Linked DNA regions of Homo sapiens. The protein of the gene in region 2 purifies or fractionates together with the protein of the main gene of each other region. This does not show direct contact. Each region holds a gene or a part of one and is shown on either strand. Other genes may lie near its edges.

What was found. The genes of interacting proteins can lie anywhere in the genome.
Region 1: the proteins of DDX21 (region 2) and DKC1 purify together in Homo sapiens (co-immunoprecipitation; 3 studies listed by BioGRID and IntAct, with this or other methods). This does not show direct contact.
Region 3: the proteins of DDX21 (region 2) and STAU2 purify together in Homo sapiens (affinity purification with mass spectrometry; 2 studies listed by BioGRID and IntAct, with this or other methods). This does not show direct contact.

The regions. Positions count from the first base shown.
Region 1 is NC_000023.11:154,772,848-154,778,213, reverse strand, and holds the end of DKC1 (H/ACA ribonucleoprotein complex subunit DKC1), read right to left. Parts: intron 5,084-5,366; coding exon 4,965-5,083; intron 3,613-4,964; coding exon 3,509-3,612; coding exon of another isoform or gene 3,505-3,508; exon of another isoform or gene 3,020-3,504; coding exon 2,941-3,019; intron 2,028-2,940; coding exon 1,890-2,027; intron 1,416-1,889; coding exon 1,347-1,415; 3' UTR 525-1,346; downstream 1-524.
Region 2 is NC_000010.11:68,966,170-68,973,169, forward strand, and holds part of DDX21 (nucleolar RNA helicase 2), read left to right. Parts: intron 1-848; coding exon 849-1,034; intron 1,035-2,806; coding exon 2,807-2,952; intron 2,953-4,031; coding exon 4,032-4,181; intron 4,182-5,721; coding exon 5,722-5,883; intron 5,884-7,000.
Region 3 is NC_000008.11:73,421,817-73,428,856, reverse strand, and holds part of STAU2 (double-stranded RNA-binding protein Staufen homolog 2), read left to right. Parts: intron 1-6,154; coding exon 6,155-6,243; intron 6,244-7,040. UniProt on the Homo sapiens protein: RNA-binding protein required for the microtubule-dependent transport of neuronal RNA from the cell body to the dendrite.

The DNA of each region.
Region 1 (5,366 bases), on a different chromosome or scaffold from region 2:
CCAGGTTCCAGGGGATTCTCCTGCCTCAGCCTCCCGAGTAGCTGGGATTACAGGCACACGCCACCACACCTGGCTAATTTTTGTATTTGTAGTAGAGATGGGTTTTGCCATGTTGGCCCAGGCTGGTCTCAGACTCCTGACCTCGGGTGATCTGCCCGCCTCAGCCTCCCAAAGCACTGGGATTATAGGTGTGAGCCATTGCACCCGGCCTCTTTCTTGGTTCTTAATACCAAATCGGAAGCAACCCTAGACCTTTCTTCCACTAATCTGTCACCAAGGCCTTCAGATTCCTGCATGTCCCCACCCTCAGCTTCGTTCTCCCGACTCACCCTGCCCCCCGCTCCTGCCAGGCCCACTATGTATAAATACATTAACCCTCTCCTTCTCTGTTCTTCTAGAGATCAGTGGTTTTGTGGTAATCACTGCCTCTGAGTACTTGATCTCACATCAGATGACAGGGCCCAAGGTGGATTGTGTAAGATACAGAACAAAAATGTAAAAACCAGAAAACAAACATAAAAGCATCACATTTCAAATAGGACATAAAGGTCCCTAGATTTTTAATCAAAATATTTTACAATTTTTGCTCTGCTAGCATGAGATCAACAAGAAAACCCAACAGGAATACATAAAAAACTTAACAAGTTGACTTTAATAAGTAAAAATTACAACATTCTTCTCCCAGCAATGAACAATTTCATTTTTTAAAAGTAAACGAGGCCTAAAACAAGAGGGCACAGGAACAAGTAGTCAGATGGATTTAGGTGAGCACTGTACACAAGCTTTGAGGAAGTGCAAAGGACTGACCTCTAGGCCAGAACAAGATGGAAAACTACCAGGCCCATCAGGCCTATAACCCAGACACCAGCATGGACAAAACTCAGTTATACTGAATTCAGAGACAAAATTCAGTGACACTCTTCTACCACTTATTTAGGGTTCTACAGCATTTCACTGAGCAGACTTAGTTTTTTGTTTTTGTTTTACAAACCTTTTAAACAGAGGGGATTTAAAAAATGCAAACTAGGACTACGATGTTAAGACAACCACTAGCAGACAGCTGCGGACAGTTACTGGGTCTGAAGGTGAGGCTTCCCAACTCAAACAGAGAAGTCATTGGGATAAACTCTGCCTCTTTCATCTTTCACCACCCATATCCTTAAAACAGGACAAGATGGGATGACCACACCAGGTAACATCACCGAGGTCTCAAAGTAGCAGCTAAAATGTGCCAGAACTCTTCACCCTGTCTAGGACCTATGTTCCACTCTCTCAGCAACAAAAGGATCTATAACATGTTTTCTCAATAAGGCTTTAGTTTCTCCTCCAGCTTCAAGTGGCCTTCACTACTCAGAAACCAATTCTACCTCTTTTGCTTTCTTCTTCTTCTTCTTCTTCTTGGTGGTATCACTGTCCTAGAAAGAAAGAGAATGAAAGCTCACAGATACCATCCACTAACAAAGCTATGACTCTCCCAGAAGGAAATCTGGTAAAGGTCCACAGTCAAGCAAGCCTTTTTCAGGACCTGTAAGGATATTTTGGGTTAAATGCTGCATGTGACACAAAGTTCTGTAAACCTTTCAGTGACACCCTAGTGGTCTACTTTTGGAAGTGGAAACATTCAGATCACCATCCTACACATCCTCTCCACCCACCATCAATAGAGCTCTAAGTATAAGTGGTAGAGGTCGGGTGCCTCTATCTGTCCATTCCACAGGGAGGGCAAAAGCACTCCAGGAACATGGGGAAGCACTAAAGGCACTCGGTGGCATCCCACCCCCAGGCCACAGCTCCTCCAAGAAGAGTAACAAAGCTGGTACCACCTGGGTAATTCTTTCCCCACGCAGGGACTAAGCCAGCCCAAGGAACCTGAACGTGTTTCCACACACCCCATCTCCAGGCTCGGCCCCGCTCTCCAGACCAGCTTTGGCCTTCTTGTCCTTCTTACTCTTCTTCTTTTCCTTCTTGATCAACTGAGGAGCTGCTGGAGGAGTCTCGTCACTTTCACTCTCACTCTCTCGCTTCCGCTGAGATGAAAGCAATTGGTTAAGTGTTAGATCTTGGGCAATAATGGACAAGAAAGGTTCAGTGAGTCAAAAGGTAGCAAGGCACCAAGAAAGATCCCAACTGAATCTAACAGGACGTTTTCTGACTACAAACCCGGACAGGGCCTTAGTTTACTGAGGATTTGAAGACAGTCTCATCCCCCAAATCCAAGAAGCCTTGAGGCAGGCACAAGAGAAGGAGCACAGCAGCAGCACGGGGCTTGGGGTGGAAAGGCCCGGAGGAGCTGTTTCTCTCATGACTGCAAGGACCTCTCACAGAAAGCAGGCAAAGCAGGAATTCACATCTGACAAGTCAGAAGCTCCTCCCACACAGCCTGTGCAGGATACTCAGTACCGCCCCCGGTTTCTGAGTGCAGACCTGTCATTCTGTGCTCTAATGCCAGCAGCTCCATGGGGTGGAGTTGCCAACCCATGCTTGACTGACTCTTTCAACACTGGGTGGTGCCAGGTTAAGATGCAATTCTGCTCTCTGCTGAATTTTGTATGGCCTCGAATGTCCAACAGCCATGGCCTCTGATTTCAACACATCTGTCCTACCATTTGACCCAGGGCGGGGGCCAGAATTGACACACACACCACCACCCATTCCATCACTGTGTTGCTGCCATAGCTGAGGTAGGAGTCGAGGCCCATCTGATTCCTGAGCCCACATTCCTCCTCCCAGCAGATAGGACAGAGAATACAAATCAGAGGAGCCTGCAGAGCCCAAACAAGCACCCCAGGGTATGAGGCAGCATTACCTGTGTATGCGCTGCACCTCTGATGCTAGCGTATATGGCTGGACTGCGGACAGTCACAAAGTAAGACGAATGCCAGTGCCTCTTAGGATTATCTCCCTAAGCACATTCCAAACTGAGGACAGCATGCCACTCACCTTCGCAGTTTTTGCTGCTTCGGCAACTACCTGCGGGGCTTTTACCACTTCAGCAACCACCTCTTTTTTGGCAGACTCACTGAAAAAGAGGTAGCAATAGGTCAAATTCACTGAATGGCTTTCCAGGGCAGTACTGATGTTATGTAGTGTTATCTGGCAAGTCTAAAGCCACCATCAAAATACTGACGCTGGACAGAAGAACTCACCACTTACTGTTGCAGACTGACTCCCTCTAGAGTCCCACGAGCCAGACTAGAAAGGGATAACTGTCTGCCGTGCAGGCCCACACCCCTAACTGGCCTGGGCAGCCAAAATCTCACGGGAGCTGAAGAGCTGGTTCCTGTGGTCCTGCATTTAGCAAGTTTGCCCCAAACCAAGTGACTCCCCCTCCCCTGGGCTCTACAACCTCCATGCTCACCTGTTCCTCACCTGTTGTCCATGTACTCCTGCGTCCAGATGGCAAGTGGGCTCTACCTTCCCATCCTCACCTGTTGTTGACATACTCCTGCATCAAGGCAGCAAGTGTGCCGTCTCTACCCACCCCGGCTCTGAAACATCCTGCCCTCACCTGTAGTCAACATACTCCTGCTTCCAGGTGGCAGGTGTGCTGTCTGTGGGCTTCCCATGCTTGTCCAGAAGGCCCTGCTTGATCATCAGCTTCTTCTGACTTGCCTGGTGGAACATCAAGGTGTCAACATTAGAATGGTGTCAATGCTGGAAGCGGGCATGGTGACTACAAAGAATAGAACAAGGTTCCTCCCTGGTGTATTCTCAGCAGGGCCTCAAACTCCTCTCCAGAGCATTCAGAATTTGCCCACTAACTCCAACACACACAGGACTTGTTGAAGATCACAAAGCTTATTAGTGAGAGCCTCTGCAGACATAACGTCCCCACCGCAGCCACTCTACTTTTTTGCCTTTGCACATGCTGCTTGCTCCCAATGCCCTGAACTCTCCCCTCCCCTCTTCACTTCACCAACACCTAACCCACTCTTCACACCGGTGTGGCTTAACAGACAATCCCTTGACCAGACTCCTTGACCACTGTGGACACTCCAGGTGACAGACACCTCTCTGCACTCCTTGGTAGCCACTAACGTGCATGAAATTCGCCATTCCACTGTGTGATTACGTGAGTAATGCCCAACTGTTTCCCCTCATTAGACTGAAATCTCTAAGGCCCAAGACAGGGCCTGTTTCCACTCATCGACAACCCAGAGCCCAGCACAATACAAGGCTGTGGTGGTGAAACACACCAAGAGCTGCCCAAGTATTCAACAATGCCAAACAAAAGAACCTGGCAGGAGCCGCCCCATCCGGGAGGGAGGTGGGGGGGGGTCAGCCCCCCCGCCCGGCCAGCCGCCCCGTCCGGGAGGTGAGGGGCGCCTCTGCCCGGCCGCCCCTACTGGGAAGTGAGGAGCCCCTCTGCCCGGCCGCCACCCCGTCTGGGAGGTGTGCCCAACAGCTCATTGAGAACGGGCCAGGATGGCAATGGCGGTTTTGTGGAATAGAAAGGCGGGAAAGGTGGGGAAAAGATTGAGAAATCGGATGGTTGCCGTGTCTGTGTGGAGAGAAGTAGACATGGGAGACTTTTCATTTTGTTCTGCACTAAGAAAAACTCTTCTGCCTTGGGATCCTGTTGATCTGTGACCTTACCCCCAACCCTGTGCTCTCTGAAACATGTGCTGTGTCCACTCAGGGTTAAATGGATTAAGGGCGGTGCAAGATGTGCTTTGTTAAACAGATGCTTGAAGGCAGCATGCTCCTTAAGAGTCATCACCACTCCCTAATCTCAAGTAATCAGGGACACAGACACTGCGGAAGGCCGCAGGGTCCTCTGCCTAGGAAAACCAGAGACCTTTGTTCACTTGTTTATCTGCTGACCTTCCCTCCACTATTGTCCCATGACCCTGCCAAATCCCCCTCTGTGAGAAACACCCAAGAATTATCAATAAAAAAATAAATTTAAAAAAAAAAAAAAAAAAAAAAGAACCTGGCAGGGCACGCAACCCAGTACCACTTACCTTTGGACCTAAACCCCACTTCCGAGGGTAAGTGTCTCTCTCCATGATCACTCTCTTGATCTTGGCTACTATACCATGGTCGCAGGTAGAGATGACCGCTGTGGTCATTAATGCAATAGCTACAGGCATTGAATAAAGAAAAGAATTATTTGAAGGGTGAAAGAATTGATAATTGATGAGCCCCAATTCTACTGTTGTATGCCACTTTAAAACTTTTAAAACTCTGAGCTACTACTTTAATTGGGGTTACCTTTGCTCAGGATGTGCATATGGAGGAAATACTCCATTATGAGAAGGAGGCCTTTGAAATGACGTTAAACTTCTGAAGTTAAAAAACACCTAACCAAAGCACCTAACGATACACATAACAGGCTTGCAGCTCAAGACGTCTATAAGAACGGC
Region 2 (7,000 bases):
CCTGTAGTCCCAGCTACTCGGGAGGCTGAGGCAGGAGAGTGGCGTGAACCTGGGAGGCTCCCACGCCCGGCTAATTTTTGTATTTTTAGTAGAGACAGGGTTTCACCATATCGGCCAGGCTGATCTCGAACTCCTGACCTCATGATCTGCCAGCCTCAGTCTCCCAAAGTGCTGGGATTACAGGCGTGAGCCACCGTGCCCAGCCGGAAGTAATTTCTTTCCTGATGCTATTGTCCTCCAGTAGTGCATATTTCTTTCTTTCTTTTTCATTTATTTATTTATTTATTTGGTGAGACAGAGTCTCACTCTGTGGCCCAGGCTGGAGTGCAGTGGCGTGATCTTGGCTCACTGCAACCTCTGTTGCCCAGGTTCAAGCGATTCTCCTGCCTCAGCCTCCCGAGTAGCTGGGATTACAGGCGCCCACCACTGCGCCTGGTTAATTTTTGTAGTTTTAGTAAAGATGGTGTTTCACCATGTTGGCCAGGCTGGTCTTAAACTCCTGATCTCATGATCCACCCACCTTGGCCTCCCAAAGTGCTGGGATTACAGGCGTGACCCACCACGCCCGGCTGCATATTTCTTTTATGTCACTTTGTACACTAGACTGTCACTTCAAATATTTACTATAATTGGGTGCTTTAAATTTTGTTGATATTTTTCACTTCTAATGTTTTTCCCACTAGATTAGGAGTGCCATGAGTATCTTTATCATTATTACTTAGCATATTACTTTGTACTTGTAGGTATTTAACAAATATTTTAGAGTAACAATACAGTTAACTGTGGTACCCCACACAGATAAAAGTACTTACTAAAAACCCAGCAAATCTTGTCATTGTTTTTTATAGTTGAACGCATGAGGAATGGGATTGATATCCTGGTTGGAACACCAGGTCGTATCAAAGACCACATACAGAATGGCAAACTAGATCTCACCAAACTTAAGCATGTTGTCCTGGATGAAGTGGACCAGATGTTGGATATGGGATTTGCTGATCAAGTGGAAGAGATTTTAAGTGTGGCATACAAGAAAGGTAATCCACAAATTCAAGAAGCTGATAAAAAAGACCAAAGGAAGGGTGGTAACTCTGTCTCCTGGGTTCAAGTGACTCTCATGCCTCAGCCACCCTAGTAACTGGGATTACAGGCACCCACCACCACGCCTGGCCTCGTATTTTTAGTAGAGATGGGGTTTTGCCATATTGCCCAGGCTGGTCTCAAACTCCCAGCCCCAGGTGATCCGACTGCCTCACCCTCCCAAAGTGCTGGGATTAGAGGCATGAGCCACTGCGCCTGGCCTGGTGACTAAGTAGTTTTCTAAGAGATTAATAAAGCCTTGGGAAATTGGAATGGGGCTCATTTTATCTAGAAACTTGGATTAAAAAAAAAAAGTCATTACTCTGGGATTAAAGCTGGTGAGGAAAAAAAAAGTCATGATTTATCATATTACCACAATGGGGAAAACTTGGAAAAGTAAAGAAAAATACCATCTTCTGTCATCTTGATGTGGTCTGCTTTTGGTGTATTCCTGATGTTTTGCATTTTATTGTATATATGTGTTGATTATACTCTGACTATACATATAAAAATTCAGCAAAAATACTGTATGAAGTGGTTGGCCATGACTTAATTCTACCATCTGCCTAGTTTGATTTTTATTCAATATAAATAGTTCTGTTTAGCCACTTTTATACAGATAGCTTCTCACCTCAATATCTGGAATTGTTTTTTGTTTTTTTTTTTGAGACAGGGTCTAAATCTGTCACCCAGGCTGGAGTGCAGTGGTGGGATCTTGGCTCATTGCAGCCTCCACCTTCCAGGTTGAAGCAATCCTCCGAGTAGCTGGGACTATAGATGTGCGCCACCATGCCCAGCTAATTTTTCTGTTTTTTGTAGAGCTGGGTTTCACCATGCTGGTCTTGAACTCTTGGACTCAAGTGATCTTCCCTCCCACTTTGGCCTCCCAGAATGCTGGGATTACAGATGTGCTCTACCGCGGCCGCCCTTTTTTTATTTTTAAGATAGGCCCTCACCCTGTCACTCAGGCTATAGTACAGTGGCACCATCATAGCTCACTGCATCCCTAAACTCCTGGGCCTCAGCTTCCTGAGTAGCTTAGGGCTACAGGCGTGCGCCACCATGCCTGGCTAATGTTTTTATTATTGATAGAGACAGGGTCTCACTGTGTTGCCCAGGCTTGTCTTGATTCCTGGCCTCAAGTGATCCTCCTGCCTCCACCTCTGAAAGCATTGGAATTACAGGCATGAGCCACTGTGCCTGGCCTGGAATTGGTTCTTTAGGATAGATTTCCAGAAGTGGAATTACTGAGCTTAAAAGTGTAAAAAATTCATGCTCCTCAATATACATTGTCAAATTCTCTCCAGAAGGGTTCTATCACACTTCTATTTGGAATGTTTGAGAATGTGATGTCACTCTTAAGTAGAATTGAACAAACAAAAATAGTAGCTGGACTCAATGATTGGACAAGAATTCTAAATTCATAAAATATTGAGAATAGAAATCTTAGAATAGATTTCGTTTGTAATTCAAAAGCCTAATGGTCAGAAAGCAAAATAACTTTAAAGTACTTTCACTATTTTAAGGATCTTTTAGATAAATTACCTAGCGGTATTTCTTTGCCCATTGGGAAACCTCTGTCTTCCAGTTTTGTGTCCTCAGTGCCCGACTTGGCCTCAGGTGGTTGCTGGTGAACATTGATGGACTGTGGAAGTATTAGGTTAGGTGGAATACTATGTAGGCTTGTTTGGATTATTCATACTGACTTTTTTTTTCCCCCTCCTCAAAGATTCTGAAGACAATCCCCAAACATTGCTTTTTTCTGCAACTTGCCCTCATTGGGTATTTAATGTTGCCAAGAAATACATGAAATCTACATATGAACAGGTGGACCTGATTGGTAAAAAGACTCAGAAAACGGCAATAACTGTGGAGGTAAATTATTTACTTAGTTGCCAGAATATAAAATTGTATATATTTTTTTCTTGTCTGTTAGTATTAAGACTGGCAAATGCTCTTTTTCCAGATAAATACTAAATCCATGTGAAAAGCCAAGGAAAAATATTTCTATTTGAGCTGTATATGATATCTGTGTTTTTATTTTTATTTTTTGAGATGGAGTCTCGCTCTGTCACCAGGCTGGAGTGCAGTGGCGCAATCTCCGTTCACTGCAACCTCCACCTCCCAGGTTCAAGTGATTCTCCTGCCTCAGCCTCCTGAGTGGCTGGGACTACAGGCATGCGCTACCACGCCCAGCTAATTTTTGTATTTTTAGTAGAGACAGGGTTTCACCATGTTGGCCAGGATAGTCTCAATCTCTTGACCTCGTGATCTGCCCATCTCGGCCTCCCAAAGTGCTGGGATTACAGGTGTGAGCCACCACGCCCGGCCCGATATCTGTGTTTTTAAAATTTCATCATCTATGGCCTCATTTCATTTCAGAATGATTTGGAACTTAAATCTATCTGAGTTATGTAAACATAAATCACACTTAAAATTTAAACATTAGAGGGCAGCAGAGAAATCTAGTGCTTTGTGTTTAAGCTTAAAAGTGTTGAAGTTTAAAATTTCACCTTTGATTCTGATAATCTAGATGAATTAATTTCACTGAGGAACAGACCTGTATATTAATCTACTACAGATTGGGTTTTTAAGTAAATGAAAAGGCAAAACATACAGAAATTTGTTGGTTATTTGGTTTCCTGTAGAAAGCTAGGGAGTGGCATTTCCTTTCCTGCATTTTCCTGGTTGTCAGAAAATAAAGAAGTTAGATGCTCTTTAGAGAAAGGGGAGAGGCATGGGGAGATGGGCAGATCATGTTGCTTTCTGCTTTACTGGCTTATTTAGGTTTTTTTCTGTCAGTGGTGGCTGCAGACAGCTCTTATCAGGCTTGAGTAGTTGTTTCCAGGAGCAAGACATTAGAACATTAGTGTTGTGCTCACTGATCATTGTGTTGTGATTTTAGTTTCCAGCAAAGCTTTACTAAATAGATGTTTTTTTTCTTCTTACATAAGCATCTGGCTATTAAGTGCCACTGGACTCAGAGGGCAGCAGTTATTGGGGATGTCATCCGAGTATATAGTGGTCATCAAGGACGCACTATCATCTTTTGTGAAACCAAGAAAGAAGCCCAGGAGCTGTCCCAGAATTCAGCTATAAAGCAGGTTGGTCCTTCCCCTTATGCCAGCAAAACTGGGGATATCAACAAATCTTCACCTTGGGCATATCTGCTCTTGGTCTGATTTTCATTCATTCAGTGAATACCAGTTTAGTTTAGTTTAGAAATGAGAGGAAGCTACTTTTTTTTTTTTTTTTTTAATTGAGGCAGAGTCTCATTCTGTTACCCAGGCTGGAGTGCAGTGGTGTGATCTGGGCTCTCTGCCTCCTGAGTTCAAGTGATTCTCCCACCTCAGTCTCCCGAGTAGCTGGGATTACAAGTGAGCACCACCATTCCTGGTTAATTTTGTTTTTTCTTTATTTTTTTGAGAGGGGGTCTCGCTTCTTCGCCCAGGCTGGACTGCAATGGTGTGATCTTGGCTCACTGAAACCTCCGCTTCTTGGGTTCAAGCAGTTCTCCTGCCTCAGCCTCCCAAGTAGCTGCGATTACAGGCACGTGCCAGCATGCCCAGCTAATTTTTGTATTTTTAGTAGAGATGGGGTTTCACCGTGTTGGCCGGGTTGGTCTCGAACTCCTGACCTCAAGTGATCCACCTGCCTCGGCCACTCAGAATGCTGGGATTATAGGCATGAGCCACTGCGCCCAGCCTAATTTTTTTTTTTTTTTTTTTTTTTTTTTTGGAGACAGGGTCTCACTCCCTTTGCCCAGGCTGAAGTGAAGTGCATTGGCGTGGTCTCGGATCACTGTAGCCTCAACCTCCAGGTAGCATGCACCACCATACCTGGCTTTTTTTTTCTGGATGGTGTTTTATTATTGATATAATTCATGTGCCACATATTATCATTTTAAAGTGTACAGTTCAGTGGCTTTTAGCATAATCATGAGGTTGTGCCACAGTCACCACTATCTAATTGGGAAGACTTTTTTTATCTTCAACTTTTAGGTTCAGGGGTACATGTGAGGATGTACAGGTTTGTTACATAGCTAAATGTATGCCAAGGTGGTTTGCTGCACAGATCATCCCATAACCTAGGTATTAAGCCCAGCATTTATTAGCAGGATTAGCTATTCTCCTACCCACCCCCAACTAATTTTATTTTTTTAAATTTTTTTTCTATTTTTAGTAGAGACCGAGTCTTGCCATATTGCCCAGGCTGGTCTCAAACCCCAGCCTCAAGCAGTCTGCCTGTCTGGGCCTCCCAAAGTGCATGAGCTACTGCACCTGGCCTCACTTCTTTCTAATGATCAGAGGGTACATGTTAGAACTCACTTAATCTGTCATGGCATCTCATCACACAAATGAGGAAAGGGTGGCTCAGACCTAAGGTTACACTGATAAAATAGGTTTGATCACTCTTGTCTCATTCTCAACTTCAATAAGTAAAGTTGGATACAGTTGGAATTGATAACTGAGGATTTGGAAATAATATTGAGGCTTATCCATTCAAGACACATTTTCCCCTTTGTAATGTTTTCAACAGGCATGTCACCAAAATATGAATGTCTTTTACAGGCCTAACTGATGAAGAGAAAAAGTACTTGTATTGTTGGAACTGGTGTTCTTACATCCGTTTATTTATTGGCAGGATGCTCAGTCCTTGCATGGAGACATTCCACAGAAGCAAAGGGAAATCACCCTGAAAGGTTTTAGAAATGGTAGTTTTGGAGTTTTGGTGGCAACCAATGTTGCTGCACGTGGGTTAGACATCCCTGAGGTTGATTTGGTTATACAAAGCTCTCCACCAAAGGTATGTGCTTTATGCTTAGATTTTATTTTGTTTTGTTTTTTTTGGGTATTAAAACAAATTGGAAATTGTATTATTTACTTTCATGTCATTAGTATATAGCTATCTTTTGAGTGCTGGGATGCTAAGGGTGATTTTGAGAATGAACCTGTTATCAGACACCCCCCTCAGAACTGACACTTGAGTAGAAGTGCAGTCAGCAGACAGAGGTTCAAAAGGTGACTTGGGGATATAGTGTGATTTTTGAGCCAAACCTTGAAGATGGGTGGAAGGACTGAGATGGGATAGGGGTAAGTAAGGTAGATAAATGCATGAGCCTAGAGGACAGGGGAGAGAAAGGGCCTGTAATTAACCTCTGTGGTTAGAGATGCTTAGGTTTGTGAGTTATAGGAACCTCTCAAGGAGGACCCTGAATCATAGTTTACTTGATGTGGATAGTTCTTCACGTAAATAAAGGTTGTTCCAAAGGTATTCCAATCACTTCCAACATGAGGACCCCAAAATCTCACCCAAATTGGCAAATCCCCCATGGTTAAAGGCTGCTTACAACAATGGGGAAAAATAACTGAAGACTATGAATTCACCAATTCTTAAAAAGGAAGTCCCATGAGTGTGTGGTATAAACATTGTTTCACGAGCCTTTAGACTTTTTGATATGGTAGCCACTAGCTGTGTTGAGCACTTGAAATGTAGGTGGTCTGAATTGATCTGTGTACTGCAAGTGTAAAATACATACTGCCTAACTTTTTATTATGCGGTCTGGATTTTGAAGACTTACGAAAAAATACAAAATATTGCATTGGTACCCTGGTTTGTATAGATAGTATATTGAAATGATAAGACTTGGATATTCTGACAGGCGTGGTGGCTCATGTCTGTAATCCCAGCACCTTGGGCGGCTGAGGCAAACGAATCACTTAAGGTCAGGAGTTCGAGACCAGCCTGGCCAATATGGTGAAACTCTGTGAAACCCTGTCTATACTAAAAATACAAAAATTAGCCAGGCCTGGTGTCAGGTGCCTGTTGTCCCAGCTACTTGGGAGGCTGAGACAGCAAGATCACTTGAACCCGGTAGGCGGAGGTTGCAGTGAGCTGAGATCATGCCACTGCACTCCAGCCT
Region 3 (7,040 bases), on a different chromosome or scaffold from region 2:
CGCTGAAGCTGCTCCCTGAGACCTGGCCTTCGTCTCATATATGCAGTTCTCTTCAGATGGAAGAGAGCAGGTGCCATGGGTCCTGGACTGGGTGAAGCAGGTCATTTGGTTCTGGTGTTCAGGCCACACTAAGAACCAAGTATTCCCAGTGTACCTAGTGAAAACAGGCTATAAGTAGCCTAAAAACGATTTTTTAAAAGATTTTTAAAAATTGTTTTTAGTTGTTGTTTTGCCCTTGCTAGGAATAAAACAGGACCGAGAAGCCCTAGAGCTCGTAGGAACCCCATTCAGCAGTATCACATTGCACAGTTCCATTTCCTGGCTCTCAGTAGCCCTCTGTGATGGTGCTTTTGGGATCCAGCACTGTCACATCTGGGTATTTACCTAAAAAGTTTGAAATTTGTGTGTCAAGAGATATCTGCACCCTCATGTTTATTGCAACAGTATTCACAATAGCAAAGATGTGGGATCAACCTAAATGTCCATTAATGGATGAATGGAAAAAGAAAATGTGGTATATAGACACAATGGAATATGTTCAGCTTTTAAAAAGGAAGAAATTATGTCATTTGCAACAACATGGATAGAATTGGAGAACATTATGCTAAGTGAAATATGCCAAACATAGACAAATCCCACATGTTCTCATTTATATGTGAGATATAAAACAATTGAACTCCCAGAAGCAGAGAGTACAGTGGTGGGTACAGAGGCTGGGGGTAGGTGGAATGGGAAAATGATAGTCAAAGGGTACAAAGTCTCAGTCAGATAAAAAGGATAAGTTTGATTTTTTTGGACATCTACTGCACAGTGTGGTGAATATAGCTAACAGTTGAGTACTGCACATTTTGATATTGCTCTGAGAGTATATTTCAGGTGTTGTCATCACAGAAAATGTTAAATAATTTATCATTATGTTACAAAAAATAATAAAATTTCAAATGTAATTGTCCACTTTGGAAGAAATTCATAAATTTCAGAATTTATGCCAATAATTCACATTTTAATGGCTCAGAAGAAAAGTAACTGGTCTTTTGTTAAAACTGTTGAATATACAAAGAACTTGAAGTTCATGAGCCCACTCCGTGAAAATGGGAATATCTGGAAAAAGGTCTGGCATGGATTGGTCCTTGGAGCCTACAAGTGAGTGAGCCTGGCCTTTAGCGCCCCACGCGCATGTGTGAGGTGGGACAGTGGGCCCCGGTTGATGGACACAGGCTGTGGGCACATGCACTGCCCTCAGCATAGCCGCCTTAGCACTTCAGGACTTAAAAGGACCTCAGAGTCACTGAATCAAAGCTCCCTGAGAGTCAAATTCCTCTGTGAATTCCTTTCTTGCAGGGAGGGTGGGGAGAACTGTCCAAACCTCAGTCTTTTGAGGGTGAGTTTAATTTTTGAAAACAGCAAAACTTCAGACAAAGCCAAGTCTAGTGAAGAAGGTCAACAACCAGGATGAACACATTAAAATAAGGTGGGGCCAAAAGATGACAAAACTGGTTTGCTTCTCTGACCCACAAAATGGTTCTGAGAGGTAATTCCAGAAGCACCTAGAGTAACACCCTCCTCCCACTGCTGCTGCCGGCACAACCTCTCCAAGGGTGGATAGAGAGCTCATATTAACATCTTTAAGGCTGGGCACAGTGGCTCACGCATGTAATCCTAGCACTTTGGGAGGCTGAGGCAGGCGGGTCACCTGAGGTCGGGAGTTCGAGACCAGCCTGACCAACATGGAGAAACCCCATCTCTACTAAAAACACAAAAGTAATCTGGCGTGGTGGTGCATGCCTGTAATCCCAGCTACTCGGGAGGCTGAGGCAGGAGAATCGCTTGAACCCGGGAGGCAGAGGTTGTGGTGGGCCGAGTTCACGCCATTGCACTCCAGCCTGGGCAACAAGAGCAAAACTCTGTCTCAAAAAAAAAAAAAAAAAAATCTTTAAAAATGGACATCATCTTTGGCTCAGAAATGCAATTTTAGGAATTTATCATAAGGAAAGTATTGAGATGATGCATAAAGATTGAACCAATAGGAAATTTGATGCAGTGTTGGTATCACACAGGATATCGATAGGATACTGTGCAGTCATGAGAAATGATGCTACCGAAATGTTTCTGTTGATACTGCACACATTCAATGAAAAGAGCACACAACAGATGAACGGACAAAAAACCATGGTATATGTATACAATGGAATACTACTCGGCCGTAAAAAAAGAATGAAATCCTGTCATTTATGGCCATGTGGATGAAACTGGGCGAATGTGAAGTGAAATGAGCAGGGCACAGAAAGTTAAACACCACTTGTTCTTGCTCATGTGTGGAAGCTAAAAAGGTTGATCTTACAGAAGTAAAAAGTAGAACAGAGGATATTAGAGGTTGGGAAGGGTAGGGGGAAGAGAGGGATAGGGAGAAATTTATTAAAGGATACAAAATTATAGCTAGATATGAGGAATAAGTTCTATTGCTCTATACCACTGTAGAAAGACTATAGTTAACAGTAATATGTTCTATAGTTTCAAGCAGCTAGAAGGAGAATATTGTATGAACCCAACAAAAAGAAATGATAAATGTTTGAGATGATTGATGTACTAATTACCTTGATCTGATCACTATGCATTATGTGTATTGCAACATTGTTACCCACCCCATGAATGTGTACAATTATTATTTATCATTGAAAAAAAAAAAAGCAGGTTACCTACAGTGTTAAGACATGATCCAGGCTACAGTTTGTAGACATGGGGAGAGGATACTAAGTGATATGGAGGCTGGGGGCAGAGGCGCATGCCTGTAATCCCAATACTTTGGGAGGCTGGGGCAGGTGGATCACTTGAGGCTAGGAGTTCAAGACCAGCCTGGCCAACATGGTGCAACCCTGTCTCTACTAAAAGTACAAACATTAGCTGGGTGTGGTGGCTCATGCCTGTAATCCCAACTACTCAGGAGGCTGAGGTGCAAGAATTGCTTGAACCCAGGAAGTGGAGGTTGCAGTGAGTCAAGATCACACCACTGCACTCCAGCCTGGGTGACAGAGTAAGACTCCATCTCAAAAAAAAAGAGAGAAAAAAAACAAGTGATATGGAAAGACGTGCGCCAAGATGTGAATGGTGAGCAGGATTGTGGATACTTTTTACATTCTTTTTGCTTGTCTATATATTCTGACTTTTCTGTAACAAAAAACTATTTTTATAACAAAAAATAATACAGGGAGAGAGAGAGAAGAGAGAGAGAGAGAGAGATTTTGCTATCCTTAAAGAGAAGCTATGAGGTCCCTGTACAGTTTGCTGGAGCTGCTGTAGTAAAGTACTACCAACTGAGTGGCTTCATCAACAGGAGTGTATTGTCTCACAGTTCTGGAGGCTAGAAGTTCAAGATCAAGGTGCTGGCAGGGCTGGTTCCTTCTGAAGGCTGTGAGGGAGAATCTGTCCCAGGCCCCTCTCCTCACTTCGAGTGCTTTGCTGGCAATCTTTGGTGTTCCTTGGCTGCTGCGGCATCACTCCAGCCCCTACCACCATCTTCACGTGGCGTTCTCCCTGTGTGGGTCTGTGTTCCAGTTTCCTCTTTTTATAAGGATACCAGTTATATTGGATCAGGGACCTACCCTACTCCAGTATGACCTCATCTTAACTAATTACATCTGTACTAATCCTATTTTTAAATAAGGCCACATTCTATAAGGCCCCATTCTGAGATACTGGGGGTTAGGACTTCAACATATGAATTTGGGGGAAGAGCACAATTCGACCTATAACAGTATCCAGGGAGATGGCCACACAGCTCCCACCCCACTGAAGTTAGCGCCTACCTCCCATCAAAACCCACCTGGCTGTTGTCCAGCATGAGCATGGGCCAGGATCAGGAGCTATGGGGTGGCATCACTGACCTTCTCCCTGCAGCACTCCAGGTCCAAAGAGATTATGATGATAACTGAGACTTGAGCACCACATCCTCCCTGCTTCGGGATGCCCGGGCCAGGGCTGCAGATCTGCATGGGCACTCACATTAGCACCTCTGATCTAGGAAGCCTGATTTAAAGATTTGAAAGGAAGGAGTAATCTAAAGAAAAAGAAAGGACGCATGCCGACTTTTGCTTGGATATAGGATTTGTGATTAAAAAGCAACAATAGAAAAGCAAGAGAGAAGAAAGAAAAAAGTATTATGAATATTACACATTAAATTCCACATATGGATGTTTATAGCAGTTTTATTCATAGTTGCCAAAAACTGGAAACAATCAAGATGTCCTTCAATAAGTGAACGGACAAACTGTGGTGCATCCATGCGATGGGACATTATTCAGCAATAAAAAGGAGCTACGAAGCTCATTTATGAAAAGCCATATCGTTCACAAAAAGAGGGGCCGGGTGCAGTGGCTCACACCTGTAATCCCAGCAGTTTGGGAGGCCAAGGTGGGTGGATCACCCGAGGTCAGGAGTTCGAGACCAGCCTGGCCAACATGGTGAAACCCCGTCTCTACTAAAAATACAAAAATTAGCTGGGTGTGGTGGTGCAGGCCTGCAGTCCCAGCTACTTGGGAGGCTGAGGCAGTAGAATCACTTGAACCCAGGAGGCAGAGGTTGCAGTGAGCCCAGATCGTGCCACTGCACTCCAGCCTGGGCGACAGAGTAAGACTCAGTCAAAAAAAAAAAAAAAAAAAGACATAGAGGAGCTTCAAATATACATTGCTAAGTGAAAAAGCCAATCTGAAAAGGTGACATATTGTATGATCCCAACTGCTATATGGCAAAACTGTAGCGATGGTAAAAAGATTGGTGGTTGCCAGGGGGCTGGTGGGGGTGGGGGGAGGTGAATAGGTGGGGCACAGAGGATTTGTAGGGCTGTGGAACTATTTTATATGATACTCTAATGGTGGATAAATGCCATTAGGCATTTGTTGAAACCCACAGAATGTACCACACAGAGTGAACCCTTATGTAAACCATGGACTTCAGTTAATGATAAGCTATCAATATTTGTTCATCAGCTATAACAAATGTACCATACCAATGCAAGATGTTAATGATTGGGGAAACCGTATTTAGGGGAGGGAAGAATATGGGAACTCTGTGTACTACCTGCCCAAGTTTTCTGTAAACCTCACAAGACTATTAACTAAAAAAGAATCACACCTCCAAAATATATTCTGAATAAAGAAACTTAAAGGAAATCATGCACTTAGTCAGCTACCCTAAAGGAGCTCTTGGCAGATAAAAGTTTGGGAAACCGCCAAGAGCTAGCTCGTTTTCAAAGGCAGCTGAGAAGACACAGATGCCCCAAGTGTGACCCAGCGGGATGCCCCAGGATGAAAACAGCCCTGCCTGCTCATGCCCATCTCAGACTCAGCAGAGCCCTTCCAATCTCACTCAGCAGTGTCGGGCTTGGGGGAGGGGAGGAAGACCCAAATTCTTACTCAAAGAAATAACAGTTTGGAACATGCACAAGAGTGTCAACAAGTTATGTAGATCTTATCAGCATGGCATTTTTGGTGCCTCCCAGCTATACAGCAAGGCTCCACCAGCCTGTTCACACCCTGCGGCTTCCCACGCACCCCGAGCCTATCAACACCTCGGGAGGCTCTGCCCGGCAGGCCTGCCTCCCCAGAACATGACCAGCCCAAACTTTCTCTCTTTCCTCATCCTCTCAGGATCCCATCTTACCATCCATCCCCTCAGTCTGCATGAGGACCTACTGTCCATTCCTCTGCTGACATTCTGTACCTTGACTGGGGCTAAGTGTCTATCAATTTGAACAATACCTTTATGCTTACTTTGGAAAGAATACTCAAGGTGGAAAATTTGGATGTCACACCTGAGAGAAGAGAATGTGTAGTTTCAGTAACGTGAGAAATTATGCAATGTCACCATGGAAGTATTTTAAGCTTATATGAGGTGTTGCCATGTTTGCAGATAAAACATCACAATTTTGCAAAACTGTGGAGAAGGGATAAGGCAGGAGACTTAAAGCCCTTCTAGTTCCGGTTATGTATATACACTGCTGCCTGATCATGCAGACTTTCTAGTGTACTTTTGTTAAACAATGCAAAAAAAAATTATGTAGACTAATGAAAATGAGTCTTTCTATCTCAGCTTTCTTTCAGTTACTTGTTCATTACACTAGAGTCAGTGAATGGCTCTCTCTGTTTGTTTTCATTTTTAGGCAGCCTTAAGTGCCTTGAAACAATTTTCTGAACAAGGACTGGATCCAATCGATGGAGCAATGAATATCGAAAAAGGTTCTCTTGAAAAGTGAGTAAATCCCCTGTCAGTATTCTTACACTTTTAATTGTAACTGTACAAAAGATAAGACATAGATAATAATGTTTTAAAAAGTCGACAATAGTATCTACATCTTACACAATTATTAATAATACAATTAAATGTAAAGAAATGAAAACCAGTATATATGGCCATATACATCTCCTGTAATATTTCTGTGAAAGTTTTAACCTACTAATTGGTCACTGATTTTGCATTTCATTGCTTTGTTGGAAATATTTGTGCATTGTCCTGACTGTAGAGACTTGTAAAACTTACAAAACATTGTTTTTCACTTCATACTGTAGAGCATTGTCTGGCTAAGCCATTTTCAGCGGTGAAAGTTTTCACTCACATTCCTGCTAAGTTGTGGGCAAAGCGGAGAGAAAAGAAAAAGAAGTTGAGAGGAGGCGCCCCTCCCCTCGGCTGCATTCGGTTTTCCGTGTTGTTTTCTATGAAACACCAGCACACATTGCCACAAAGTGTGGCTCCCAAGGGCTACACGGGCAAAAGATGCAGCTGTCGTAATTATTTCTGAAATCCAGCTCATAGCTTTGCTTTAATGAGATGTGAACAGAAGGTCTCACCAAAGAGACTGAATTTGGGGTCTCTCCAGAGACTCAATTTATACTAAAAAAAAAAAAAAAATGGAAAGGGGTTATATTTATATAGTAGAATTCAACCTCTTTCCAAGCAGTAATAATAGCAGGTAGGATCTCAGAACACATGCAGGAGATAACATTTTTAGGTTTAAAAGAAAATAAAAATAGTCAACCCAGGAAGTAAAA